2 linked regions of the Homo sapiens genome follow. The protein of the gene in region 1 interacts with the protein of each later gene in a pairwise test. Each region holds a gene or a part of one and is shown on either strand. Other genes may lie near its edges.

Region 1 (3,587 bases):
TAGGGACCGTCAGAAGGCTTCTCTGGAAGCCACCCCACTGCTCACTCATACCCACATCTCTGGCTCAGAGCCCTAAGCCACAATAGGCTCTGTACTTGGGGAGAACTACAGGGGACTTCTGAGTATCTTCAGAGTTCTCTGTGTCACTTCCCCTAGTCCCCTTGGAACAGGGTGTCTGTGAACTCCATCCAGTGCATGTGGAATCTGAGGCCTCATGCCACCTCCTGCTCACCAGAGCTCCTGGGAGAGAAAGTGGAGCCCGGGGCACCTGCAGAGGCTGTTCCCAGCTTGGTACGAGAGCTTTGGCACCTACCTGGCTGAAGGTCACGGTGAGGGTGCTTTCTGGAGAGGGTCTGTCCCGGGATAAACCCTCCTGCTGACTGCAGTCCAACTGGATCAGGCTGCGGCATTCTGGGTGACAGGTGAATTTACAGTCTGGAGGTAAAGAACAAAAGGGAGATTAGAGGACAGGCAGGATTCCTCCCCACTTTCACCCAGAGAAATAACCTTGGAGATTGCATTAGTTCCCAGTGGGAAGAGCAGTGCAGGAGAGAAGTGGTGGGGCGGGAGACAGCGTGAGAATGCCACCCTGCTCTCGGATCCCCCAGGAAGGATGCAAGTTAAGTGCTCTACGCGTTTGCAAACTGCTTTCACCTGCATTACTTTGTGTGACTCTGCAATCATTATTATTTCCATTTTACAGATAGAAAATCAGTGCCTAGAGACTGAGTGACTTTCTCAAGGTCAGAACTTCTGCCTCCCAGACTGGTGCTCTTTCTACCACTTTACATTAATCACCAGCACCCATAAATCCCTGGGGAAGGACTTGACTTTTATGGGCCTTATGTTGCCAATCTGTAAAATACAGGTTGTGCATCCCCAAGCTGAAAATCAGATCTCCAAGATGCTCCAAAATCTGAAACTCTTTGAGCATCGACATGACACTCTAAGGAAGTGCTCACTGGAGCAATTCGGATTTTTGATTTTCAAATTTGGGATGCTTGACTGGTATCATACATATTCCCAAATCTGAAAAAAGTCCAAAATCAGAAACACTTCCGGTCTCAAGCATTTCAGATAAAGGATACTCAGCCTGTATGGGTAATAGCTCCCCTGCCTGCTTCTAGTTATAAAGGAGGACATATCTTGAAGAATTAAAAGTGCTTCCAGAGACAAAGGCATTATCATCAGCAGGAAGTGCTGTTACCTCTCTCTGACCCGGCCTAGGCTAGAATGTGGGGATGCTACTCTGAATGCAGCTGAAATAGCCCACAGACCACATCCCAGATCCGGGGATTCAGCGGGGGAAGCACATTCCATCGACAATGTTCACTTCCATGGAAGCAGAGACTTAGTGACCAGAGTTGAAAAGAGCTTTGGGGACTACCTCAGAGATGGGGAAACTGAGGCCAGAGAGAAAAAGTGAGGTGCCCAATGACACACAGCTCATTGGTGGCAGCACCAAGGCTGCTAGTATTTTCCAGCTTTCTCAAGGGCTCTCTTTGGAGCCTCCTGGCAGAAGGGAGGTGAAGTCAAAGGCAGCAGGAGACTCAGGGAGGCGAGGGAAGGGCAGGGGAGCGGGGGTGGGGGGTAGTGAAGACAAGGTGGCAGCAGAAGAAAGTAACACAAGTCCATCCGCAGGGAAAATGCTCGGATCTGAGGTGTGGTCCTCACAGATAGCTGCCAGGTCAGCTGGAGTCACCTATTCTGGAGGTGCCTCAGCTCGGCCAGAAGGCCCAGCCTTCTAGGCGCTGGAATCTCATAAATTTTCCTTCTGGACTGTGAAGGCAAGTCATGAGGATGGGTTAGGGTGGGCGGGTTTTGTGGCAGGAGTCGTGACAGCCTGGACTTGATTGCATACCTGGGGATTAGGGGGCCACTTTTTGTTGATAAGGGCTCAGGCACCTCGAAATGCTTTTCCTTCCTTCTAACAAGCTCCAAAAATTCAGTACATTTGGTGTCGATTTTTAAAAGCCACCACAGCACACTCTATCTTGGCAGAGGGGTGATGGCTCCTTTTCTCCCCACTTTTGGGGAGCTTTGGAATGACACCCCCCTCTCCCCAGCTGCCCCTTCCCTTACTCCCCCAAAGATAAGCACCTGGACCATGTTTCTTGCACGGGTTTTGCCACTAATGTCCATAGGGGAGCACCCTGACAAATGTGGGGACACACAGAGATCCCAGAACCGCACGACCTTCCTACCCATGGCCTGACCACCTTTCTGTAACAGTGTCTGGAACCTTCACTGCTCATCTCCTTTGTGCTCGAAAGTGAAGCCCACCAATATCCTCTCCTTCAGATCCCACGCTTCTCTACGCCTCCCTCCTCCTCTCACTTGGAGACAGAAATGAATGAAGTCAATTCCCTGGGGCATGCACCCATCTACCTGCAGGCACCCACATGCATTTCTGGTCCTCCGTGGGAGACCTCTTGCTCAGCACAAAAACAGCCTCCCCTTTAGTAAGGTGAAGGGTACAAAGGGAAGTGCAGGCCAAACTTCTGCCCGCAGTGCCCAGAAATACCAGGGTTTTGATAAGGGAGCACTGAGGCCAGAACCCACAATGGGCAGCATTGTTCCTGGCGCTGGCCCTGGGACACACCTGTATGGCTCTGGTAGAGCTCTGAGCGATGAAGAATGCTCTGAGGATGCCAAGAAATGGCAGCAAGGAAAAGGAGGAAGGACTGAAAGCTCGCCCAGCTCCACGGTGATGACAGCTGCCATAACTCACAAATGGGAAGGCACCTGGGAGAGGAGGAATTTCTCTCTCCTCCTCTTTTAGCTCCTTGTCCTGTTGGCACAGGCAGTCTATGTCCACCTGTGCATCTGAATCTCTCAATTTCCATCTCTCTCTCTCTCTCTCACACACACACACACACACACACACACACCACACACACACAGACACACACACACACACACCCTGAAAACATCACCATGCTGAGCTGGACAACACTAAGTAGCAGAAGACTCTGAGAAGTGTTCTGGGATTTTATAAGAAGCATGTTTGAGCACCAAAGACTTTGTTCCATCGGACCATGTAATCACAGGCTGCAGCAAAACCTCTGAAGCACATCTTCATACTTCCTCGTCCTGGAAATGCCAAGCCCAGGGCTTTTAGGCCAGCAGAGATGAAGTCAGAGCCCCCATGCCTTTCTCCAAACCCAAAAGCAACAGCCTGCAGGCCTGACATTTTCAGGGATTGGGGAGACCCATGAGATTCCAAAGACAGAGCCACATTCCACTAGACCCAGTGGTTAATTCTCCACAGACCACAGTTCCCTTAAGGCAGCTCGTCACCAGCTGCTGCCAAACCAAACCAACCCCTGCCCTTGGTATTCCACTGTCCTCCACAGCCTTCAGCTGGTGCTCAATTTATGTTTTGTTTTTTGTTTTTTCTTTTTGAGGCAAGGTTTCACTCTGCCACCCAGGCTGCAGTGCAGTGGCACTATCGTGGCTCTCTGCAAACTCCACCTCCCGGGCTCACCTCAGTCTCCTGAGTAGCTGGTACTGCAGGCGCCCACCACTGCACCTGGCTAATTAAAAAAGGGTTTCACCATTTTTCCCAGGCTGGTCTCGAACTCCTG
Region 2 (3,587 bases), on another chromosome or scaffold:
CCTCCCAAAGTGCTGGGATTACAGGTATGAACCACCACGCATGGCACAAAATTACTTTCTACGGCTGAAATCTGTAAATCCCTAATGCCAGTGATTTTATTGTCTGTCTCAGCTCACAAGATAGTTACCAAGGCATCAACAATTAAGTAACTCCTATATATAGTACACACTGCTAAATATAATATGCAACAAGAGCCTGCAGCTGAAGAGGCAATACAGAATATTGCTCTGAATTGAAACATATTTGCATTTGAGTTCTGGCTCTATCACTTACTAGCTAGTAATCTTGGACAAGTTACCCAGCCTCCCCAAGTTTGTTTGTTTATTTGTAAACCTAATTCAGCACGTTTTTGAGGATTAATGAGAAAATATATAAAGTAGAACAGTGTCAACGTACATACTAAATAAATGCTGTATTACTGAAGAAACAGTAAGGTACAAAGTAGCTGTAGTAACTTGTTAAGTAGATGCCTAGTATCTATCCCTAAAGATCTAACTACTGCTAACTGAAAGAATACCTATCTCAAACAAACCCATCTACAGGCTACTATATTTAGACTTAACAATGCTTCACACAAAGCCTTGACTGTCTAATTCCTATTTAAATCAAGAAATAAGTACCCAGACGCCAAATTCTCAAGGAAAACCAAAGAAAGAAAGTGGAACATCAAGCAAACTTTGCTTCAGAGTTTCAAAGCTTAGAGGGGCAAGGGACCCAGCCAGCCCCAGAGAGTCTAACAAGAGACCATGTAAGCTACACAAAGTTAAGGTCCCCAAAAGCTTTAACCTCATTATAAGAGTAAACTGTCCCTCAAAGAAAACTGCTAGTCTGGAACCTTTCACACCGGAGGAACAGAGGCCTAGGGTATAAGGAGAGGGGCTTTTCTGGGGCCAGCAGTACTGCCAGGAGCAGGAGAGAAACAAAGCAAATCCCTTCTTAAAAGAAAATCTACCTTAAGTACAGTCCCTCCAAAATTTCCATAAACAAATTTCTAAGAAATATGAGCTAACAAGGTATCTTGAATGAAAACGGTGATATAATTAGGGTAGCAAGCAATTTTTAAAGAAATAACTAGAAAACGCCATATATATGGATATTAAGAACATTTTTAGAAACTTACAGGTCAAAGAAATCAAAATGAAAAACAAAAAAAAAACAGAAACGCTCAATCAAAAACAAAAAAGACTGCAAAACTTGTGAGATCCAGCTGCAGTACTTAGAGGTATGATACCATCTCTATAAAATTTTTTTAAAAAGCCATACAACATATTAGTATAGCTGCATACATATATAGACACAATTTATGATAATGGTTATCTCTGGGGATAAAAGGAAGAGAAAAAGATTTGGGATGGAGTATTTCACCTGTATCTGTAGCTTATTTCTACAAATGATGATGATGATGATAGTATCTGAAGTAAAATGTGGCAAAATATTACTCTCAGTTAAGTCCTGATAGTTGGCTACACTAGGATTATTTTCTGTATTAATATCCAAATTATTAAATTTTTCATAATCTAAAGTTTTAAAATTTGTCTTCTGAAGTTAAATGCAAAAATGTTTAAAGAATTTTTTAAAACCTGGATATTTATGGTAACCATTTCTTCTAAATGAGTAATTCAGAAACCAACATCTAAGGACACAAAATCAAATATTTAAAATGTTTTAAATATGACATCATACAACTTTAACTTGTATTACCTGAAATACTCACATAGTAATTGTCATTTATTTGAACCATTGGTGCGTTCACACAGGCCCCTAAACATTCCACTTCTATAAGAGTGAAAAGTTTGTCAGGTGTAGTCTCCCCAACCTTTATTCCTAAAAATACAAATAAACACTCTAAGGACCAGGTTATATTTTAATAGTCATTTGGTTTAAAAAAAAAAAAAAGAATTTTTATAGAGGTATATTAAAAGTTTAAGACTATTAAGTTTTTTAAAAAGAGGCCAGGCGCGGTGGCTCACGCCTGTAATCCCAGCACTTTGGGAGGCTGGGGTGGGCAGATCACGAGGTCAGGAGATCTAGACCATCCTGGCTAACATGGTGAAACCCCGTCTCTACTAAAAATACAAAAAATTAGCCAGGTGTGGTGGCGGGCACCTGTAGTGCCACCTACTCGGGAGGCTGAGGCAGGAGAGTGGCGTGAACCCAGGAGGCGGAGCTTGCAGTGAGCCGAGATTGCGCCACTGCACTCCAGCCTGGGCAACAGAGCAAGACTCCATCTCCAAAAAAAAAAAAAAAAAAGTTTTTTAAAAAGAAAAAAATCCTAGGCCAGGTGGAGTGGCTCCGTCCTATAATCCCAGCACCTTGGGAGGCCGTGGTGCGAGGATGGCTTGAGCCCAGGAATTTGAGACCAGTCTGGGCAACATAGGGAGACACAGCTCTACAAAAAAATTAAAAATTTTTTTACAGTAGTAAAAATTTTTTACAGTAGTCATGATTGTGCTACTGTACTCCAGCCTGGGTGACAGAGCAAGACTCTCTCAAAAAAAAAAAACAAAAAAAAAACTCTATGTAATTTTAACATTCAAGGAAGTTTTTAGTGGACTTGTTCCTTTAAAAGCAATCAAATTTCAGAGGACTTATCACCAGTGTTTACTGTTATACAGCAGTGCATCAGGCTGTATTATTTTCATTTTGATTGTAATAATTAAACTACTAAAATCACAGTCACATTATCAGATTTGGCAAAGACTCAGAAAACTCCTAACGTCAAAGATTATCAAGGGATGTGAAGAAAATGGGTAGTCTCATACATTTAGGGAAGGCATTTGGGAAAAATACGGTAAAGTCTGACCCTACAATTCTACTTCTTGTAAACTATCTCAGCATACAACAGGACAAGTACGCAAAGATGTGTGTGTACATCAAAGTAACTGTTTGTAAAAGAAAAATGAGGCAGGCCAAGCATGGTGGCTCACACCTGTGATCCCAGCACTTGGGAGGCCAAGGTAGGAGGATTGCTTGAGGCCAGGATTTCACAACCACCAGCCTGGGCAACATAGCAAGACCCCTCTCTACAAAAACAAACAAAAATCAATTAGCTGGGCTTGGCAGCATGCACCCATAGCTACAGCTACTTGGAAGGGTGAGGCAGAAGATCACTTGAGCCCAGGAATTGGAGGCTGCAGTGAGCCATGATCCAGCCACTGCATTCCAGCCTGGTGACAAAGTGAGACCTCAACTCAAAAAAACAGAAAAAAAAAATGAGGCAGACATATATATTGTGCTGTAGAAATACAGCCAAAATAAAGTCTAAAAAGCAAGCATACATGTAGTACATTTATATATTTAATAATTAAAATGATATAAAATCTACAACTAATATATCCAATTGTTATCAGGATTTATACCTTGATGGTGTTGGGGGTGGGGGGGTTTGAGCCAACTTCAGCTGTTTTATATATTTCAATACCACCCAGCTATTTTTACAACATGCACATATTATATTCAATAACAAAATATTACTTCATTTGACATATATAGTTAGAAGTGTAGCAATGGCAGTTTTGTAGGGGAAAATGCCCATTTACTTTTAAAATGCTAATTTACTTTTCAAATGCTACTGTAATAACATCTG

Evidence for each region.
Region 2: the proteins of RASSF5 (region 1) and NDUFV2 interact in binary tests that used the Homo sapiens proteins (3 or more experiments, as listed by UniProt).

The regions. Positions count from the first base shown.
Region 1 is NC_000001.11:206,535,020-206,538,606, reverse strand, and holds part of RASSF5 (ras association domain-containing protein 5), read right to left. Parts: intron 436-3,587; coding exon 314-435; intron 1-313. UniProt on the Homo sapiens protein: Potential tumor suppressor. Seems to be involved in lymphocyte adhesion by linking RAP1A activation upon T-cell receptor or chemokine stimulation to integrin activation.
Region 2 is NC_000018.10:9,123,112-9,126,698, reverse strand, and holds part of NDUFV2 (NADH dehydrogenase [ubiquinone] flavoprotein 2, mitochondrial precursor), read right to left. Parts: intron 1,826-3,587; coding exon 1,716-1,825; exon of another isoform or gene 1,703-1,715; intron 1-1,702.